7 linked regions of the Homo sapiens genome follow. The protein of the gene in region 1 interacts with the protein of each later gene in a biochemical or structural test. Each region holds a gene or a part of one and is shown on either strand. Other genes may lie near its edges.

Region 1 (3,121 bases):
CTTTTTTTAGATTGTTTTAAAACGCTCTGGTTCCACCTTGAAGCTGATAATCTTTCTGAAAAATATATGAGAAACTCAGAAAGTAGTCATTATTATAATAAATTTAATTTTCTTAGGGAAAAAGGGCAGGGTTCTGGATGGAAACCCCTTTGGAAATTCTTATTTAAACTTTTGAATGAATCTTTAATATGATTCAGGCTGAGATTATGATACCTGCCCTTGTCTTATTTCAAGAGGTTTGCTGTGAGAATTCATGTAATAACATCTGTAATGTATTTGGAATTTTTGGGAGAAATTCATTCTTTTAAATAATGGGATTATTGTATATAGTACAAATGAATACTCACAAAATTTAAGAATACATTTGACTAATAATTGAGCATCTTGTCAGTTTTTATGCAAGCATATATTGTATACCTGAGGAAGATGACAGTTCTATAATTTTTTTAAGGTAAGGTTATTTTTAAATTGCATTTTTGTTCTAACGTTTTGCAATTTATATTCTTTTTAAAATATTTCCCATAATTCATCATGCTAGCTTCTGTGTTCTTGGAATAGTTTTTGAAAAATGCAGAGATTCGAACATGAGTCCTTAATATACTAAACAGTGAAAGAATGATGATATCTCATTTCTAAAGTAAGCATGGTTCACACCACTTTGGCAATACACTGCAGTACTTTTTAAAAAATATTCTCTAGTGATAAAAGTAAAGACAGGGTACTGGCCAAGATCCTAATTCTGACTTCTGACTGTGTGATCTTCGATGAAATTTATATTTCCCTTTATCATTACTATTCTACTTGTTAAGTAAGGCTAAGTTAATATTTGTCTTCGCCTTAAATTCTGATTTGTAATTTGTAACTCTGATGTGGTAGCTGTGATATGGTGAACTGAAAAATCCTTATTAGGCTACTTTATCTGTTCTCTTTTAGTTATTTTAAAGTGTACCTGTTTCTGAAGTAATGTAGTGAATGGTGAATACTTTTCAGGAATTCTTCCAGTTTTAAAATAGCCCCAAAGATACAGTTTCAGCTGGTGGAAGGTCTGTTCTGCTCTCTTAGTCCTAATCAGAAAGTCCCTTTTATCTTATAATCCCATACTAAATCCAAACCCTTAGCAAATCCTTGCTGCCAACCAGACCACTCACAAATCAAACAAAATGTAAGCAAGCAATCCAGTACTCGGTTACACCAGAAGACTCTGATCTTTGCCCCCGAAAACTGTCCTACTTTATCCTTATACCTGAAATCACTGCATACCTGAAATCACTGCAGCCCTACTGTTTTACCCATACCATTAATTTAAAAAGGCATCTATTTCTTTATAGAAAGAAACATTCACAGTGAGGTCTTAGTTTGTGAACCTCAAAATCCAGATATTAATCCACTTTAGTTATTACTTTGTAATTGCTTCTCAGTCATTGGCTGATAATGCAATGGTGTGATAAATTTGACTTATCTCCACATACAAAAGTCGATCAGAAGGGATAGTTCTCTTCCTTTTTTTCCCCTCCTACTGGCTCTTACTGTTTTCTAATCTCCAGTGTAAATGGAATGAACACATCTATAGTTAAGGTAAATGCCACCAATCAGAAGATTGAGTGATTTACTGCTTGTAAAGCAACTGTCTTTGAATCTTATGAAATAGGTGGTGTTGCTACCACAGAAGCCAAAAAGGTCTTAAAATTGGAAATAGATGTCTTTATTGTACTTCAGCCAACAGCAAGCCAGGGGAAGGAACATACATAAATATGACAGGTCATATATGAAATTTGGCTCTCCTCCTATCAAAGTAGCCTAGGAGCTTGGAGGAAGCCTAATTAACTAAAACAGGAAAAAAGCATACTCATCTGATGTAAAAACTCATCAGCTGTAAATTACCAACATTAAACCAGAAGTCATTACCAGTTAAAATGTGTGGTTTTCATCTTATTCTTAAATAGGAGAGGTGGACAGTAGTGTAAGTAACATTGCTTTAAAGACATAAAGCTTGTCCTGGTAAACATGGTCTAAATGAGAAATGCCTCCATCTTTTCAGGTAGAACCAGATTTCAGGCATAGCTCAGCTACATCTGTATTTGAAATACAATAAAAATATTTCTTATGTCTCTGTATTCTCTTTTAAAAAGAACTGCTGACTGGCTCCTGTCTCTTCAGTAACACTGATTTTTTTTTAAAGAAGTGATATGTTGGACTCTGTTGTAGAAGAATGAGCACTAGTATTCAGCAACAAGTGCAATTTCTCCATGTTATGTTGAGCTCTGTTGGAGCCTATGGTGAGTATTTGATGTGAAAACCTTGCTGTGGGAATTTTTTATTCTTCCTTTTCCCCCCACGCCAGTTCGTTTTGGTAAGTCTTTTATTTGAACACAAGACGCATGCTTTTTTAAACCTCTAGTTTTTGAAGTAACTGTAGAAGAGAATCTTTAAAAAAAAAAATGGAGGGCAGAATGCTTGTTAGCAATCTGAAAATCAAAGCTGAACAAGCTGCTTAAAGTTTCTGATTAAGAAGTTTAAAAAGAAAAATTAATTGCTACTGCTTTCCAGGTAATTGTATTATTAGTTTCTGTATAAAAGAAACATTATTGCTGTTGTATAAATAAAATTTTCCTGTGGTACAATTAAGTATTGATTTTTCAGAAACTGTCCCTATAAATCTTTTCACATATTTCCATGTGCTGTCCAAAACAAAAATTATTGAAATGTCTAATCTGTGAGATTATATACTCCTGGTAAAATATTTTTGTATATATAAAGAAATATTTACTATTGGAAAAAAGTGTTTCATTTATAGGTAGAACTAAGGTTTAGAGATAATAATGGAGGATATCTGATTAGCGTTGATAATTTTTTTTAACTGTTTGCATTTTTTAACTTTTAGGTTTGGGGGCACATGTGAAGGTTTTGTTACATAGGTAAACACGTGTCACAGGGGTTTATTGTACATATTATTTCATCATCCAGATACTGAACCTGGTACCCAATAGTTATCTCTTCTGCTCCTCCCCCTCCTCCCACCCCCCACTCCAGTAGACCCCAGTGTCTGTTGTTTCCTTCTTTGTGTTTATAAGATACTATCATTTAGCTCCCACTTAGAAGTGAGAACATGCAGTATTTGGTT
Region 2 (3,500 bases), on another chromosome or scaffold:
TTCAGAGAACTCAGTTGCACAGGATGATATCACTTATAATCAGGAGTCAATATGGGTCAATCTGAGTCCAAAGCCCATGCTCTTTCCACTGCACAAAAGATAGCCAGAAAGAGCCAGAGGCAGACTATCACCACAGGAGGCAGGCAGGCTGGAATGATTGTGGTGGTGCCAGGCAGGGATCATTCATCCATCCACTTGGCCAGTCTTTTTGAGATGAAGTTTCGCTCTTGTTGCCCAGGCTGGAGTGCAATGGTGCTATCTTGGCTCACCGCAACCTCCGCCTCCCGCATTCAAGCTATTCTCCTGCCTCAGCCTCCTGAGTAGCTGGGATTACAGGCATGTGCCACCACGCCCGGCTAATTTTGCATTTTTAGTAGAGACAAGGTTTCTCCATGTTGGTCAGGCTAGTCTCGAACTCCCGACCTCAGGTGATCCCCCTACCTTGGCCTCCCAAAGTGCTGGGATTACAGTCATGAGCCACTGCCCCCACATTTGACCAGTCTTGTAATGTGCATCTACTATGTGTTTGGCACTGTATAGACCAAGATGAAAAAGATATGCATTCAAAGATCTCTCACAGTAAGGTAGGAGAAGACAAGGAAACAAAAGAATAAAAAAAAGTTACATAGAATCTATACTAGAAGTCTGAGGTGTGTGCCCTGAGGAGGGGGCAAGCGGAAAATGTAAAAAGGAAAAAGGCAGATCTAATGAAGGACCTACAGAGACTCAGCACAAATATTCTCTTGAGTTTTCTTCTAGTGTTTCTGTTTTGATTATTTTGCTTTGGGTTTAGTTTTTTGTTTGCTTTGTGTGTGGTTTCTTTTAATTTAGATCCTTAGTCTAGCTGGAATTTTAAAATATGATCTAACTTGTTTGCTTCTACTAGTAACTAAAGCTTTTTTTAGACTCAATTGATATTTTCTCTTCAAGCTATTGATATGTTCACTCTCTTGGTAAATTTCTAAATGTAATACTGTCTTACATTCCTGGAATATTGAGTTTGTATGACAAAGTTGGTTGGTTTATGATTCTTACAAGTTTTCTTTTTCTAGCTTTATTAAATGATAGAGAAGTTTCCACTTTCCCTAAGTCTTGAAGTCTTTAAGTAGAAATTACATGTTTTTGAGAGGTTATGTAGAACTTGGTTCCAAATCTCTTCATCCTGGCTCCTTTTTAAATAGTATTTTAAGTTACATTTCTAACTTCTATAGTTATTGCATTTACATTTTCTATACCTTCATGGGTTATTAGCTGCATACAAATTTTAACCTTTACATTGATTCTTTTATCATTAACTGTCCCACTTTATATCTAGTGATGCTTCTTGATTTAAAATCTATTTGATCTTAGTATAGCTACGTTAATTTTCTTTTGATTATCATTTTTGGATATATCTTATTTCATCCTGTTACTTTCAAACCTTTTGTGACTTTAAAGTGTTAGCCTGTAAGCAGCATATAAAGTTTTGTTTTTAACCCCATCTTTGTCTTTTAGTTGGAGTATTTAGTCCTTTTACATATAATGTTAACTCATATTTGGGTTTAAATCTGTTATCTTACAATTTGCTATTTTCTTATTTGTTCTATATTCTAGTTTCTTTTCATTCTTACCTTCTTTTGGACTAATCAAGAATTGTCAATTCATCATTCCCCTTTATGAGCTTGTTATCCATTGTTTTAAATTACTTCAATGATTACAACATTCCTTATTGACCTTAGAGTCTAAAACAAATTATTACTTGTAACACTTCTCGGATAGTGCAAAAACTTTAGAACCTTTTAGCTCCATCTATCCCTGTTGTCTTTTGGGTTTTTCCCTATTTACTAAATGTCTTTTTTAAACCCATAAGACATCATTATAGCCATTCTATTCACTATTTCTCACATATTAACCCCTGTTGCTGTTTATTGCTTTCTTCATTTTCATGATTTTGCCTGGGTTCCTCATTCCTGAAGAATTTCCTCTAGAATATCATGTCGTTTGTTCTGTTTTTCTTATCCTAAGCATCTTTATTTTGCTTTCATTTCAAACACATTTTTGTTCAGTATAGAATTCTAGGTTGACAGTCATCTTTTTTTTTTTTCAGCACTTCATAGGTGGCAAATCCAACATTCCAGGCTTATATTTTTTGTTTGTAAGAATCCAGCTGTCAGTCTTATTTTTATTCCTTCAGAAACATCACCTTGTGCCACGCCCTGCTGCTTCAGAATGTTTTGTCTCTATTTTAGCAACTTTATCATGATGTACTTAGTTGTGAATTAGTTTCTGTTTTTATCCTGCATGGTGTATGTACTGATTCTTAAACTTGTGACTTTGGCCACTTTGACAAAACTCTTGGTCACCATCTTTTCAAATATTGCTTCTGCCCCATTCTCTCTCTTCCTCATGTCTGGGACTCCAATCTCATGTATGCTAAACCTTTTACCTAAGTTCTTTATAACTCAAGCACTTCTACATTTTTTTTTTTGCTTTGTTCTTCAACTTTTAAGTTCAGGGGTACATGTGCAGGATGTGCAGGTTTGTTACATGGGTAAACGTGTGCCATGGTGGTTTGCTGCACAGATCATCCCATTACCCAGGTATTAAGCCCAGCATCCATTAGTTATTCTTCCTGATGCTCTCCCTCCCACCTCCCCCCACCAACAGGCCCCAGTGTGTGTTGATCCCCACCATGTGTCCACGTGTTCTCACGATTCAGCTCCCACATATTAGTGAGAACATGCAGTGTTAAACACTTCTACATTTTGTACATTTTTCTCCTTTTATTTCTTGAGATAGCTTTACTGACTTTTCTTCTTCTGTTACTAGTCCTCTCATCAGCTACTTCTAATCTGCCTAAGACCCATCTCTTGTTTTCTTAATTTTAATTCCTACACTTTTAGTTCTAGATTTTTTCATTTAATTCTTTATAAATTCCAGGTTTTTAGAATAATTCTCCATGTTTTCATCTATTTTCTTAAATATTAATCACAAGTTATCTGGATCTCTCTTTTCTGGGTTGTGGGATTACCTAGGGATTTCTCTTTTCTGAGTTTTGGGGTTGTTTTTCTCTTCATTCTGTCTGTTGATATGTCTGGTAATTTTTTTAATTGAGTACTGTGTATGCCTGATAATTTTTTTTTTTTTTTTTTGAGACAGAGTCTCACTCTGTCGCCCCCGCTGGAGTGCAGTGGCGCGATCTCGGCTCACTGCAAGCTCCACCTCCTGGGTTCACGCCATTCTCCTGCCTCAGCCTCCCAAGTAGCTGGGACTACAGGCGCCCGCCACCACACCCGGCTAAATTTTTTTTTGTATTTTTAGTAGAGATGGGGTTTCACCATGTTAGCCAGGATGGTCTCGATCTACTGACCTCATGATCCGCCCGCCTCGGCATCCCAAAGTGCCGGGATTACAGGCATGAGCCACTGCGCCTGGCCGCCTGGTAATTCTTTTTAATTGAATACTGGACACTGAAATAAAATGTTTGGGTGTTTTGTTGATACTGCCTTTCTCCAGAGTGG
Region 3 (2,888 bases), on another chromosome or scaffold:
ACAATCTCTAATCACCTAAGAGTTCATAAAATACATATTGGCTCTGTCTGTGGTTAGATTAAATGCCATTATCTAAAAAAAGTAGGATCTGTGCAATAATAGGTCTGCCATGTGAATGACAGTTTTGGTTAGTGGATGAATTTATCCTGTATCATTGCATTCTCTAAGAATAATCCCTCTCACTCTGAACAAATAAATCAATAGCATTGGCTAACCCAGTGCATGTAAAAAACACCTTCAGTAAATGCCAGGTTTTCCCGAATAATAAAGACTTCCAACAATAAAGACTTCTTTTAAGTCTGTTTCTTACATAACTGTTGTATGGAGAGATTAACATGGTATCTTGTTTCTTCCTGGTGTGATCTTACTTTTGTCTTGTAAATATGTACTTATGTCTGTATGTTCACCTGCATCTTTGTGAACCCTTGGAAAACTCAGTATTTCAGTGGGTTTCAGAGAATAGGCCGGGAGATTGATGATAAGTAAGTGTTTCCGGCCAGTTGTTATTAGGCACAACTTTTAGGAGAAACAAGTGAGCGATAGAGCGTGGCCAAGGAGAGGAAGGCAATGCTGGAACCCAATCCATGCCTGCTGCCCAGAGACCTTAGCTGATGGCTTGTCATGTCTTAGCATGTTGGTATTCAAGCCATGTGATGTTGGAAAGAAAAAATACCTATTCAGCTTGGGGCTTGGTCTGAGAACAACCAATTGCCTTGGTTTAAATCACACGACTCCACTATCAAATTAAGTGTTTCCAAGTTTACACAAATTAGCGTCAGTCCACTGACTGTCGCCTACAATAAATTAGGCTGAGTCTAAAAGAAATCAGTCTGCATAGAAAGACCAACAACCAGCACCACTTCCTTGCTTTTTCCAGCCATGAATGCTTCCAGTCGGAATGTGTTTGACACGTTGGTAAGTGGAGGCTGGGGAAATCACCTCTCTGGAAAGCCAGGCAGATAATGTTTCATCATTAATGCAGTCATGGAAACTCAACGTTATTCAAGTGATCAATCAGGGGGTACTTCTTCACTCTACAGAAATCTTCTTTACCTTTAAAAGTAAAATGAAATTAAGGGAGGCTAGAGGAGCAGGGTGCTGGGAAAAAAACTCAGAAGTTGGTGTGTTAGGAGCCATCTCTGGAATTATAATGTATGACAAAGAGAATGTGGATTCAATTGATAAATGTTGGTTTTAGAATTTACTATTTGAGCTGAGAGTCACTCTCTGGAGAGCTGGGTAAACAGTGTGACCCTGAATGCACCTGGGAGAGAGGTCAGTCCACATGGGTGTAGACCAGGGTAAAGGATGTGTGTACAAGGAAAGGAGAAGACCATTTCCTTCTCTGTACCTCACATGCACCATCCCCTAATCCTCACTGGGGACTTGAGGTCAGTGAGGGCAGTGTGGGATGAGAGGAGGGCCCTCTTGACTATGTGCATTGCTGTTTATTCTCTTGGCAGCATTTTCTTTTTTTATGTCTTTAGAACCTGCCCTCAACATTTCAAATCACCACAGCTGTGGTTTTCTCATCACCGCTTCGACTTGGCGTTGGCTTCTTGTGTTTTCAGCTGGGTTAAGGCCTTGAACAAGACACTGTGGGATATCACTATTATTTAAAATGTATCACTCAGTTGGTTTCGCTTCCTAGTTCTTACGAATAAACACATTTTTCAAGGGGGATTTTGAAATCTATTTTAAAAACATATTTGCATTTAATGAAAAATACCCTGAAGACATTGCGGACCAGGGTGGGCACACCTTGATATTCTTGGGCATGGGGGAGGAGGTAATCTAGCGTTTATGACTTTGGGTTTCACCACTGTCAGGTGTTTATGGGACAGGCCCTTCACCATTTTGCTGTACAATGGAAGTCACAGTAATGTCATCTATAAAAAATCAATTGAGCAAATAGGATTTTGAAAAATGTAATTCATTCACTGAATTATTTCATTTACGTTTACTGAATAAACAGTAGGCACTCATCAACTGTGCTAGCAATTGTGATATAGGAATGAATAAAGTATGGTCTGTCTTTATGGAGTATTACTTAAATCAGTGCTCCCCAGTCCTCCAGCTTTGGAGTAGGGAAGGAAGTGTTAGATGTGTTGATGGTGGCTCTCATACTATTCCTTTTGGGAATCTTGGGAAACCGTGGGGAGAGAGTAGGAACAGGCTTGTAGATTTATGGAGAAGCCCTATGAGACCATCTGGTTGGATCTGAGCTCTGTTCTAAATAGTGTTCAGCATTTAACAAAAAGAAATATGACCAATACTTGTCTGAAAATATTTTAGGGAAGTGTGACTTTAGAATATAACATTTGATAACTGAGACACGGAGTGGTAGAAGCTCCCCTAGACTAGAGGCAGGGAGCCCTATATTCTAGTTGTCATCCTGCCACTGGCTAGGTACATGCATTTGGACAAGTTATTTAAATTTTCTAAATCTCAGTTTTCTCATTTGATAAATGAGAGAACAGAATTGAATTAGGATTTTTCTTGATATATGAGTATCAATAGAAGTACATAGATGATTTAGGTAGTATATTGATGAGTGTTTTATTGGTCAGTTATTCATTTTTCTATATCTCAAAAACATACATAATGCTTCAAGTTTGTGATTTCTCAGAAATTATTGCTTAACATAAGGCTAAACTTATGAGAAGGTGATTTAAGTAATATTCAATAAATAAAAATACAGGTCATAATTGGTTATTACAAACATATTTAAGGTTGTGTGAGACTAATTGAGGTCAGGAAACACTTGAATATATAATCACTTAGTTTGTCTTCATTTCTAGCTCTCTGTAATTATTTTGCCTCTTTATGTTTGAGTAACATGGTCTTCCAGTGGAAAGTTTCTATCAGAAATAGCATTGTGGTATCCA
Region 4 (3,500 bases), on another chromosome or scaffold:
TGAATAGAGATTAACAGAGTGGTCTTTAGAATCAGCTGCACCTGTATTTGAATCCTGCCTCTCCCATATAGTAGCAATGTGTCAGTGGAAAACTGAAGATAGGTTTTCTTATCTGTAAAATACCACCTATATCACAGTTTTTAAACAGCTAAGTCTAAAACAGAGGAATAAAGATGCCACTGATAAACACTTGGAAGGCTAGAAATGGAACCTGTTTGTAAAGGAAGCATCAAGTAAAGAATTTGAAAATTACGGGCTCAGTTTTAGAGTCCACTATGAAGAAAATTGATTGACACTGAGAGAATAGATCTCTGTATAAAAAAGAGGGTAGAAAGAAAGTGGTAGAGGTCTAAAAACCATACCTTAGTATGATGACTCAGTGTGAGGGTAAGGAAAAAGAGTCTAGCCAAAGAGATGGAGGATCAGTACAAGAAACAGAGTAGCACAGTTATGATAGTGTCATCAAAGCCAATGAAAGAGAGTGATTTGAGAGAAGATGTGATGGACAGTAGCCCAAAGAAGGGAGTGGATAGGAAAGGGCTGAGATTTGGTTAAGAGGCTTTGTTTGGTTAAAAGATTTGTTTTGTTACAAAGAATATTTGTTCTGCACATTTTCATAGCTCATGTAAAGATCATTGCTTTGTTTCTTTTGTATTCTTTTTAAGATAATTGTTTTGTATTCTTGTACTTCATGTTCAGGTAGATCAAAGAATATACTCTTTTCAGCAGAGATGGCAAAGGTGAATCATTCTGTTCTGGCTATAATTAACAACTTTTTATAATTATAAAATAATTTTAACTTTTTGAATAGACATGACATGTACATGGAAAAAATTTTAAAGATAAAGAGTACACAGCGAAAGTAACTTTGTCTCACCCAGTCCCTAATCCACCCAAATTCCTCTCCCCAGAGATACTGTTACCTTTTTTCATTCAAGAAATACTCTATCCATATAGCAAGCATATAAATATATATTTAAAACCACCTTGGCTAATTTTTTTAATTTATCTTGGAGATTATTTAAAATCAGTTCTTATAAAGTTGTCTCATATTTTTTAAACAACTATGAAGTACTCCTTTGTATTGTGGAGTGCACATTATGGATATTTCTAAATTTCCAGACTTTGGCTATTTAAAACAGTGTGTGGTGTTTACTTTTGCCATGTAGAAATTTTTTTATTTTTATGTAGATGTATTATTTTTTTTCCTGCTGGAGTTTCTGCATTTTGTGGTTAGTTAAGAACAAAGAATTGCCTAGGTTTGAATCCAGTGTTGGCACTTGTTGTCTATGTGAACTAAGTTTCCTCATTTGTCAAATGGGAAATCCTGGTAGTTCCTACCTAATAAGGTTAAGAGTATTCAATGAGCTAATACAATGAGAGCTCTTAGAACACCCTAGACAACATTTTTTATTAATCTTGAATTCATTTTTATGTAAACAGTGAGATAAAGAAATATATCTTTCTTTGTTCCAAATGACTTCTTCACCCAACATCATTAATCAATCTTTTTTTCTAAAATATGCAATGCCATCTATTATGTACTGAAATCTAACACATATTTGGGTTTATGTCTGCACTCATTGCTTCATTGATTTGTCTATTCATTTACTGTTTTAGTTGCTGAAGTGGTAAAATAGGTTTTAAGGTCTGATAGGGCTAGTCAAACCCCTTATGACTCTCTTCATACTTTTCTTTGGCTATTTCTGGCATGTTTATTTGTTTCATATCAACTTTAGAATCAATTTATGTAGTTCTTTTAAAAAGTTTTGTTGATGTCTGGGCGCGGTGGCTCACGCCTGTGATCCTGGCACTTTGGAGGCCAATGCAGGTGGATCACAAGTTCAGGAGTTCTAGACCAGCCTGACCAACATGGTGAAACCCCATCTCTACTAAAAATACAAAAAAATTAGCCAGGTATGGTGGCACATGCTTGTAATCCCAGCTACTCAGGAGGCTGAGGCAGGAGAATCACTTGAACCCAGGAGGTGGAGGTTGCAGTAAGCCAAGATCATGCCACTGCACTCCAGCCTGGGTGACAGAGCAAGACTCTGTCTCAAAAAAGAAAAGAAAAAGTTCTGTTGATGTTTTCATTGAGATTACATTAAATACCTAGATTACTTTAGTGGACATTTGATAGCTTTGTAACAATGGCTCTTGCCATCCAAGAACACTTATTCCACTTGTTTCAGTTTTCTTTTATTTCCTCTGTGGAGTTGTTTTATTAGTCTGTTTTCACACTGCTGTATAGAAATACCTGAGACTGTGTAATTTATAAAGAAAAGAGGTTTAATTAACTCACAGTTCCCCATGTCTGGGGAGGCCTTAGGAAACTTACTATCATAGTGGAAGGCGAAGGGCAAACATGGCGTGTCTTACATGGCAGCAGAGAGAGAGAGAGTGAGGGGGGAAGTGCCACACTTTTAAACCATCAGATCTCTTGAGAACTCACTGATTATCATGAGAACAGCGTAGGGGAAATCTGCCTCCATGACCCAGTCACCTCCCACTGCGTCCTTCCCCTGACATGTGGGGATTACAATTCCACGTGAAATTTGGGTGGGGACACAGAACCAAACCATATCAGTTTTTATAGTGGTGTTCATGTAAATCTTGAACATTTGTTTGAATGTTTAATATCTTTTATTGCTGTTGTGAATGGGATCCTTATATTATGAATGGGATCCTTAAGTTTTCTAATGGTTTCTGCCTAAGTATTCTAATGCATATGAATATCAGTGTTGTACCTAGTACCTTACTGCATTCTTCATGCTTCTAATAATTTTCAGTTAATATTTTGGGAGTTTTGAGTTAAACAATCTAATTTTCTTCAACTGATGATAACTTTACATCTCTCATTCCATTTATTAATAACTATTTCTCTATTTTGTCTATTTTCATCTGCTGGTGCTTCATATTAAATGATACCATTGTCCCTCAGTATCTGTGGGGCATTCGTTCCATGGCTCCTCACAGATAGCAAAATCCTCACATACTCAAGTCCTGCAGTTGACCCTGAGGAACTTGTGGATACATAAAGTCAGCATTAGCAGGTTTCACATCCAAGGAAACTGTATTTTTGATCCACATTTGGTTGTGAATGTGGAACACTCAGATACGGAGGGGTGACTGAATTTATTGAAAAAAATCTGCATATAAGTGGATCCATGCAGCAGTATTCCACGGTAGCAGGAGTTAGCCTTGTATGTGAATTGTTTTATCCTTTACTTTTTCTTAGTAAATGGAGATTGTGGCAGCATTAGGGCTGCTTACAACTCAGAGTGTCTCCCTTCTCTCCTGTCTCAAACAGATTTGTACCAAAGTGTATCACTGTGTGCTATGCCAAATAAAGGATTGTTGGCTTGGCATGGTGGCTCATGCCTGTAATCTCAGCACTTTGGGAAGCCAAGGCAGGCAGATTACTTGAGCTCAGGAATTCAAGACCAGCCTGGCCAACATGGTGAAACCCTGTCTGTACTAAAAATATAAAAATTAGCCAG
Region 5 (2,457 bases), on another chromosome or scaffold:
AATCAACAAAGAGTACTTAAGCCCCCATTGTGTGACAAGGGAGGTGTAGTGCCAGGTATACAGAGGTGAGACAAACAGAGTTGGGTCCTGCCCTGAGGGGCTCACAGCCCAGCAGGGGGAGGAAAGCAATGAAAAATACATGAGATTGGCAAATGGCTCACACCTGTAAATCCAGCACTTTGGGAGGCTGAAGCAGCAGGATCACTTGAGCCCAGGAGTCCAAGACCAGCTTGGGCAACATAGTGAGACTTTGTCTTTTTTTTTTTTTTTTTTTTTTTTGAGACAATTTCACTCTTATTGCCCAGGCTGGAGTGCAATGGCATGATCTTGGCTCACTGCAACCTCCACCTCCAGGGTTCAAGTGATTCTCCTGCCTCAGCCTCTCGAGTAGCTAGGATTACAGGTGCCGGCCACAACACCCGGCTAATTTTTTGTATTTTTAGTCGAGACAGGGTTTCACCATGTTGGCCAGGCTGGTCTCAAACTCCTCACCTGATGATCCACCCGCCTCAGCCTCTCAAAGTGCTAGGATTACAGGCATGAGCCACCGTGCCCGGCCGAGACTTTTGTCTTTACAAAAAATTTTAAAATTAGCTGGGCATGGTGGTGTGCTCCTATAGTCCCAGGTACCCAGGAGGCTGAGTGGGAGAATCGCTTGAGCCTAGCAGGTTGAGGCCGCAGTGAGCTATGATGGCACCACTGCACTCCGACCTGTGCAACAGAGTTCAAAAATAAATAAATAAATAAAAATAGAAAAAGAAAATGAATTAGGAATAGGAAGGAAAATGAATTAGGGGGATAAATTCAGAGAGAGGTACCTGCCAAGGACATAGCAAAAATGGCAGTGCAGTAGGGTGTGGAAGAGACGGTTTCCAATGCGCTGTTTGAGGCCGCTCAGTGCAGTTGGCATTTGAACAGACACAAGTAGCCACGATGCGGATGAAGAGCACTCTGGGTGGAGGAACAGTATGTGCAAAGGCTCAGAGGCAGGAACCAGCATGGCAGGTCCGTGGCACAGAAGGGTGGCCAGTAGCTGGCAGGAGCAGGGTAAGGGATTGCCTGAGTGGGGTCAGTGAGGTGGCACGGAAGGGGCCAGAGCATGGGGTCTCCAGGCTCTGCTCAGAGCCTGGACTTTATTGAGGGTAACATGAGCACTCAGAAGACTTGGGGTAAGGGAGCAACACCATTTGATTTTCATTTTCCCTTTTTTGTTTTTTGAGACAGAGTCTTACTTTGTCACCCAGGCTGGAGTGCAGTGGTGCAATCTCAGCTCACTGCAACCTCTGCCTCCCAGGTTCAAGTGATCCTCCCACTTCAGTCTCCTGAGTAAACTGGGATTACAGGTGTGCACCGCCACACTCAGCTAATTTTTGTATTTTTAGTAGAGACAGGGTTTTGCCATGTTGGCTAGGCTGGTCTTGAATACCTGGCCTCAAGTGAACCTCTCGCCTTGGCCTCCCAAAGTGCTGGGATTACAAGTGTGAGCCACCATGCCCAGCCTCTTCCTATTAACCATAAATTTTTTTTATAGAGATGGGCTCTCACTATGTTGGTCAGGCTAGTCTCGAACTCCCAGCCTCAGGTGATCCACCCAACTCAGCATCCCAAAGTGCTGGGATTATAGGTGTGAGCCACCTTGCCCAGCCTTGGTTTTCATTTTAAACTTCATGCACTGGGAGGGGCTGCATGACAAGTACTAGAATAAGGGGTATCATGGGGCTGTGGGAGCTCAGAGAAGGGAGAAAAAGTCTGCTCCAGAGCAGGGGGTCAGGGAAGGCTTTCCAGAGGAAGTGACATCCATGCTGAGTCTGAGGATGAATATTCAGATGCTGAGTAGGATATTCCCAGCAGAGGGAACAGCCCCATCAAAGGCACAGTTGCCTGACGGAGCCAGGCTGAGAAAGGCCTTCAATCCAGGAGCAAAGAGGCCAAGTGGAAGCAACTGCAGTGGGAGCAAACCCCCATGGAGGTCGTCTCTCCCAGTGCCCCCGCGGAGATCCGCTCTCCCAGTGCCCCCGCGGAGGTCCGCTCTCCCAGTGCCCCCGCGGAGGTCCTCTCTCCCAGTGCCCCCGCGGAGGTCCTCTCTCCCAGTGCCCCCGCGGAGGTCCGCTCTCCCAGTGCCCCCGCGGAGGTCCTCTCTCCCAGTGCCCCCGCGGAGGTCCTCTCTCCCAGTGCCCCCGCGGAGATCCGCTCTCCCAGTGCCCCCGCGGAGGTCCGCTCTCCCAGTGCCCCCGCGGAGGTCTGCTCTCCCAATGTCCCCGCTCTGACCCCAGCCTGCTGGGATGCGGTTTCCTTGCAGACTTCCCTGCCCCCTTCACCTGGGTCACAGGCTACTTTGCCATGGTGGTGGGCGCCAGCATGACCTTCGTGGTCCAGAGCAGTTCTGTGTTCACCTCGGCCATCACCCCACTCATCGGTGAGTGCCCATGTAGAGGTGGAGTGGGGTGGGCCAGGGCT
Region 6 (2,424 bases), on another chromosome or scaffold:
GAGTGCTTCAGCATTTTTCACACCAAGTGATGGGTGTTACAAACGTGTTATGTATTGATTAAAAGCAGACCTTTACAAAAGCATCTGAAAATTGTGAGCTACTGGTTTAAGGATTTATACTCAAAACTTTTAATTCAACATAGCTTTGACTCAGTTTGTTTCCCTATCTGACAGTCTATCAGTCGGGTGCTGGGGCCTGAACTACGTTTCAAATAACCTTTATATAAGAAGTCTGTTACTAAAGACGCAGTATTGTTACCTCTCTGTTATTAAAAATATAATGCTGGGTCGGGCACGGTGGCTCTCGCCTGTAATCCCGGCAATTTCAATGGTCGAGGCAGGTGGATCACCTGAGGTCAGGAGTTTGGGAACAACCTGTGCAACATAACGAAACCCTGTCTCTACTAAAAATACAACAATTAGCTGGGCGCGGCGGAGCCCGCCTGTAAGCCCGGCTCCGCCAGAGGCTCAGGCAGGAGAATCACTTGAACCCTGGAGACAGAATTTCCAGTGAGCCGAGATGGCACCACTGCACTCCAGCCTGGTCTTCAGAGCGAGACTCCGTCTCAAAAACATAGTAAGACTTACAATATGATACTGTGGAAACAGACACCCTACAATGTGCATGCCTAATGGATTGCCTACCTTCTTCAGGCGTTTTCACCTCCTCTGGATTTGGCGGGTCCATCTCCTGCCCATCAGGACCATCTTCACACTCACACCCAGTCTGTGGGTGACCCTGTTCCTGGCTATCAGCTTCAGGCTTCGGCCCTTAAAAATAAAAAATACGTATCAATTTAAGCAGTAAAACATAACGCATGAATAAGAAAATAATATTCACGCTCTCGGTATTATTATATAAAAGCTTTAGCTAACATAATAATAAATGTGTTGATAAGAATCCCAGGAACATTATTTCAGGAGTCCGTTAGCAGAAAACAGGAAAACAAGGTGTTCCAAATATTACCCTCTTCCTTTCCGAAGACTGCCCTCAGACAACTTTGCTGCCTCCTTTGCACTTCTCTCTTATTCTACTTCTGATTGTCCTTCTCGTATTAAATGACTCAAGGCTCAAATCCCGTCTCTCACAGCACTTACACTCCTAGCGCTTAGACTCTTACATGGCATGAGTAGCCACCAATAAACGCTGAGTGAGAAAACTCTTTTAAAAATACATGAAAAAGCCCAAACTGCAGAATATTCTGCAAACCAACTGGTCTATCCTCTCCAAAAATGTCCGTATCGTGAATGACAAGAAAAATTAAGGAAACATTACAGGTTAAAGGAAACTAAAAACACCTGAAAAGCACATGCAAGGTGTGATTCTGAACTGGACTCTGGATCAGAAAAAGAAATCCTATCAATAAAATTATCTGGGCCGGGCGTGGGGTCTCACGCCTGCAATCCAAACATTTTGGGATGCCAAGGTGGGCAGAGCAGGTGAGGCCAGAAGTTCAAGCCCGCAGTGGCCGGCGCCTGTAGTCCCAGCTACACGGGAGGCTGAGGCATGAGAATCCCTAGAACCTGGGAGGTGTGGGTTGCAGTGAGCCGAGATCGCACTACTGCACTCCAACCTGGCCCACAGAGAGAGACTCCGTCTTCACACAAAGAAAAAAAAAAAGGAAAAAAGAAATTTTCTGGGGAACTGGCAAAATTTGAGTATGCACTCTGTATTAAATGACTCCATTTTCTCATTGTTAAATTTCCTGATTTTCATCTTTGTGCAGTGATGATCCAAGAAATGACTTTCTCTTTGTTCTGACGATATACACACCCTCAAGTACATAGGGTAAAGGACCATAATACCTGAAACTTTATCGAGACAATTCAGCATTAATAACAGTATGTATGTGTGTGTGTGTGTGTGTGAGTGTGTGGGCAGCACGGTAAGAGACGGAGGGAAGAGATGTGAAACTGATGAAGCGAAAGCTATTAACAATTGGTGAATCCAGATGAACAGTATATGAGTTCATTGTACTATTCTTGCAAATTTTCTATGAATGCTATGTCTTGAAGATACATACAGTAAAAATTTAAAAGAATATATGATAACTGCACTGAACTTTAGGAAGAAAGGAATTTCCAATTGTGGTAAAAAATACAGATATCCTAAAATTTACCATCTTAACTATTTTTAAGTGGTACAGTTCACTAAGGAGTTACGTTTGCAACATTACCAGCCACTAGGCACAAAAACTTTGCATCTGTGTTTTCCTATACCATGAAAACTTTACTTATTTAATGAATTTATTTATGTATTTATTTATTTATTCATTTATGTATTTATTAGCGATGAGGTCTCACTGTGTTTCCCAGGCTGGGCTTGAACTCCAGGACTCAAGCAATCCTCTCACCTCGGCCTCCCAAGTAGCTGGGACTATGAGTGCATGGCATTCAGCCCAGCTTTAGACCTTTCTCCTAAAT
Region 7 (3,500 bases), on another chromosome or scaffold:
GCCCGGCTAATTTTTGTATTTTTAGTAGAGACGGGATTTCACCGTGTTAGCCAGGAAGGTCTCCATCTCCTGACCTCGTGATCTGCCCACCTCAGCCGGCGTGAGCTACTGCGCCTGGCCTGAAATAACTTAATTCTTTTAATAATTTATCTGGTTATTCACATTTCTGAAAATCACTTACTTAAGTCAAATATGAATAAAACAATGACTAAATGTATTTTGTCAGAAAATAATAGTTTATGAAATAATAGATTAGCTATCACTTTCTGCAAATAATGGGTTTCTAATGTTTGTTGACTTAAATTCATATATTGAATTAAATTTACTAGTGAAATATCAGATCATTTAATAGTCATTTGTGATATCTTAGGGTAATAAAATTTTAAAATATGTATATGTTTTTGATTGAACAGACACAACATGACAATCTAATGATTAAGAAGATATGGGTCCTACATTTTGGGTCTTTCCAGTATTGTCAACAGTGTAGGAGTTTTCGATGGGAAATAGCCATAGTCATCAAAAATCCATTTATTTAGTTTTAAAATATACTAAAATATTTTCATTGTAATGTGGAGTACATCTGCCTCTTAAGTTTGTGTATATTAATAATTGTATCCTCAGTGCTTTGCACATGAAAGGCATTCAGTAAATGTTTGTTAAATAAATGAATAAATACAGTAAGGCTACTCAGTGAGGCCTGCTTTCCAGATTCTGTTCTGACGCCCTCTTTTCAACTCTTCAGTTCATCACTATTTGCTATGAGCCTCTTCAAGACAAGCATCTTGACCTAGCATCAACCTAAACAGATTTGTCTGCCCTTCCTCCCTCCCTTCCTTCCTTCCTTCATTTTTCCTTTCTTAAACTAGAATGTAAGTGTAGGTGAATAAAGTTTTCCCATACAAGTCATTTCCTCAGCTAAGGTAGGAAAAGTGAGAGACAATTCAGGTAGTTGGGTAAAAGTTCTTCAAATTGTAGATCTTAAGCTTCAGATAGCTTTATTGGGAAGTAGGCTTTATGCAGAATAAATCATTAAAGAAATTGAGAAGATAGAAGAGCAAATTTGAATGAAGTTGATAATTCATGATAGTATTATTACAAATATAAAGCTGAGTAGGTTTTTGCTGTTTTTATTGTTGAGTTTTTAAAAACAGTACTGCTTAATAAATGTAAAAAGTATTTATTTTTAAAGATGATGTGGTTTGGGGGGGCCACATAATTGTGTTTGCAGATCTTGCATTACGATGTTTGGTTGAAACCTATGCTGCCAGTTTTGAGGAAAGGAATGAAGAACCTTTAGCCAAACGCATAAAGAATGATAAAACAGAAAAAGAAATTTACACTTTGGCCAAGGAAGGAAATGAAAAAAATGTCCCAGAGAAGTGGAACCCTGTGGCTGGCATTGTTATTGCACTCTGTTGTCACCACAGGTGTGATTGGAGACATTATGTGGGCAAAGAATATTTCAGGGCTCTAGGCCTTGGAGCAGTGGAATTCCATTATTTCCAGCGAATGAGTAGTTGGGCAACTTGTGGGATGCGGAAAACATCTTTGGAAACCTCAAATAGTACCACAAAGAGGCAAGATAATCAGAATGATGATAGTGAAGAGCATGATGATGGAGGATACAGAATCACAGATGATGGCGCTGATTGTTTGCCTGGGTAAGAGACTACTTTTGTAATGCATGATACTAAAGGAGAAATATTATATTGTACTGTACTTTAGATGACTATTATCAACAATTCATGAAAATGTATTTTATAATCTAATTTTAGAATAAGCTAAAATATACACATCTTTTATTGTGGTCATAAATATAATGTGTCTTGGAAGCATGGGACAAAGTACTTAGTACATTATGGGTTAGTTAACAGTCTCTCAATAAATAGTGACAAAAATAATTTTTTATAAACTTTTGCAAAATTTTAACAATGTTTTGTGTGTGTTTATTCAATTTAGGCTTCTTAGTGTTGAAGAAAAGAAGAAAATAGGGCATCTTTGTAAATTGCTGATTGACCAAGGTCGAATCCAGTATTTGCAGCAGAAGGGATTCAGTCCTGCTTTGCAGTACTATACAGACCCTCTGGTGTCTTTGGAAAATGTTTTGTTAACTGCTTTACCAAATCATTCTTCATCACCAGAAACAACTGCTTAATGGAAAAGAAATTTGAGCATCATCTGTCTTCCACCAAAAAAAATTTTTTAATTATATTTTTATATCAAAAAAATATATACTTTAAATAGCAAATAATATGAACTTTAAAAAATGCTGTGGCCTCATTAAACTTTGGTAATAGCTTTTCTTTTTACTTCAGAAATCCAAACATTAGAGAATTCACCAAAGTAATCCTCTTTAGAAGGGCATCTTGAATTATATTATCCATCCGTATTTATGGAGATTGGTAAAGTAGTTGAACCGTTGACTTGGTGATCTGAAACATACATAACATGTCAACACATAATTAGCGTATTTCTGTTTGTATTAATTTTGGAAATTTATCTTCCTTTGATTTTATTTAATATTTTTTATTTCTTAAGTTCAAGAGGTAGTGATTGATTGTAACAAGGGCCAATCTGAGAATTTGACTTATATGTGGACATTTTTCCCTACAGATCTGGAAAGCACAATTGTGATTTTCTCAAATGCAGACAATTCAGAGATATTCACAATTAATAAACACAATTAATTAATGAAGTCACCTTCAAATTTCCAGAGCCATACATGTATATATTGTCAGAATCTGTCCATGACAAACACAAAACTGAAGAGCTGTTTTCAAAGAAAAAAGATTATTTCACTTAATTATTTTGTTGGATAATTGTCTAGTTAGAACTTCCAAAAAGATACTTACAAACATAATTCACAAATTTGAAATAATTTCTGAAGTTGATTAGCTATCTCATATCTTTTATCAGGTCATTTTTTATATATGTAGGCACAAACAATAAGTATGTTCTCTTCTGTTTGGGAAAATAATTTGGAATAAAATAGAAATTAGATAATGAAACCAAAAACCTTCTCAAATTTAGGCCTTATTTAACTCATGACTGGTTTCTATGCACAAGAAAATACTAAACCAAATATATGGTAGGACTGTTATTCTCTTCTGCATCTTATCCCTATTTTGTTTCTGCCTTTATTTGTAAAAATTGTCTTAATTGATGGTACATTTGCCAAGACAAAGGTTCAGAATTACTAATTTTAGATATTATGATATTCTGAAATAACTATTTTTATCCTGTAGTTCTATGATTATATGATTTGTAAATAAGAAGCCTAACCAATTTAAAATTCCTGACTTTAGTCTCATATATCTTGTCAGACTGTCTCGGTTCAAATTCCAAACCTACCATCTTCAGTTGTGCGACCTTGGGCATGCTACCTAATCTCTTTGTGCCTCAATTTCCTCCTTTTAAAATGGGGATGATGATGATAACAATAATACCTACCTCACAAGGTTGTTGTGAGCATCAAATGAGATAACACAAGTAAAATG

Evidence for each region.
Region 2: the proteins of PALS2 (region 1) and HTR2A interact in a test that uses a peptide from one of them, tested with the Homo sapiens proteins (one large-scale study listed by IntAct).
Region 3: the proteins of PALS2 (region 1) and KCNJ1 interact in a test that uses a peptide from one of them, tested with the Homo sapiens proteins (one large-scale study listed by IntAct).
Region 4: the proteins of PALS2 (region 1) and RAPGEF6 interact in a test that uses a peptide from one of them, tested with the Homo sapiens proteins (one large-scale study listed by IntAct).
Region 5: the proteins of PALS2 (region 1) and SLC34A1 interact in a test that uses a peptide from one of them, tested with the Homo sapiens proteins (one large-scale study listed by IntAct).
Region 6: the proteins of PALS2 (region 1) and GAGE12J interact in a test that uses a peptide from one of them, tested with the Homo sapiens proteins (one large-scale study listed by IntAct).
Region 7: the proteins of PALS2 (region 1) and TRMT13 interact in a test that uses a peptide from one of them, tested with the Homo sapiens proteins (one large-scale study listed by IntAct).

The regions. Positions count from the first base shown.
Region 1 is NC_000007.14:24,691,573-24,694,693, forward strand, and holds the end of PALS2 (protein PALS2), read left to right. Parts: 3' UTR 1-2,621; downstream 2,622-3,121.
Region 2 is NC_000013.11:46,887,054-46,890,553, reverse strand, and holds part of HTR2A (5-hydroxytryptamine receptor 2A), read left to right. Parts: intron 1-3,500. UniProt on the Homo sapiens protein: G-protein coupled receptor for 5-hydroxytryptamine (serotonin).
Region 3 is NC_000011.10:128,840,409-128,843,296, reverse strand, and holds part of KCNJ1 (ATP-sensitive inward rectifier potassium channel 1), read left to right. Parts: intron 1-827; exon of another isoform or gene 828-879; coding exon of another isoform or gene 880-915; intron 916-2,888. UniProt on the Homo sapiens protein: Inward rectifier potassium channels are characterized by a greater tendency to allow potassium to flow into the cell rather than out of it.
Region 4 is NC_000005.10:131,457,230-131,460,729, reverse strand, and holds part of RAPGEF6 (rap guanine nucleotide exchange factor 6), read left to right. Parts: intron 1-3,500. UniProt on the Homo sapiens protein: Guanine nucleotide exchange factor (GEF) for Rap1A, Rap2A and M-Ras GTPases. Does not interact with cAMP.
Region 5 is NC_000005.10:177,394,434-177,396,890, forward strand, and holds part of SLC34A1 (sodium-dependent phosphate transport protein 2A), read left to right. Parts: intron 1-2,299; coding exon 2,300-2,416; intron 2,417-2,457.
Region 6 is NC_000023.11:49,325,037-49,327,460, reverse strand, and holds part of GAGE12J (G antigen 12J), read right to left. Parts: intron 772-2,424; coding exon 646-771; intron 1-645.
Region 7 is NC_000001.11:100,146,663-100,150,162, forward strand, and holds part of TRMT13 (tRNA:m(4)X modification enzyme TRM13 homolog), read left to right. Parts: coding exon of another isoform or gene 1-10; exon of another isoform or gene 11-1,231; coding exon 1,232-1,664; exon of another isoform or gene 1,665-1,962; coding exon 1,963-2,158; 3' UTR 2,159-2,379; coding exon of another isoform or gene 2,380-2,435; 3' UTR 2,436-2,705; coding exon of another isoform or gene 2,706-2,773; 3' UTR 2,774-3,500. Other genes in the region: LRRC39 (leucine-rich repeat-containing protein 39), read right to left, coding at 2,706-2,773. UniProt on the Homo sapiens protein: tRNA methylase which 2'-O-methylates cytidine(4) in tRNA(Pro) and tRNA(Gly)(GCC), and adenosine(4) in tRNA(His).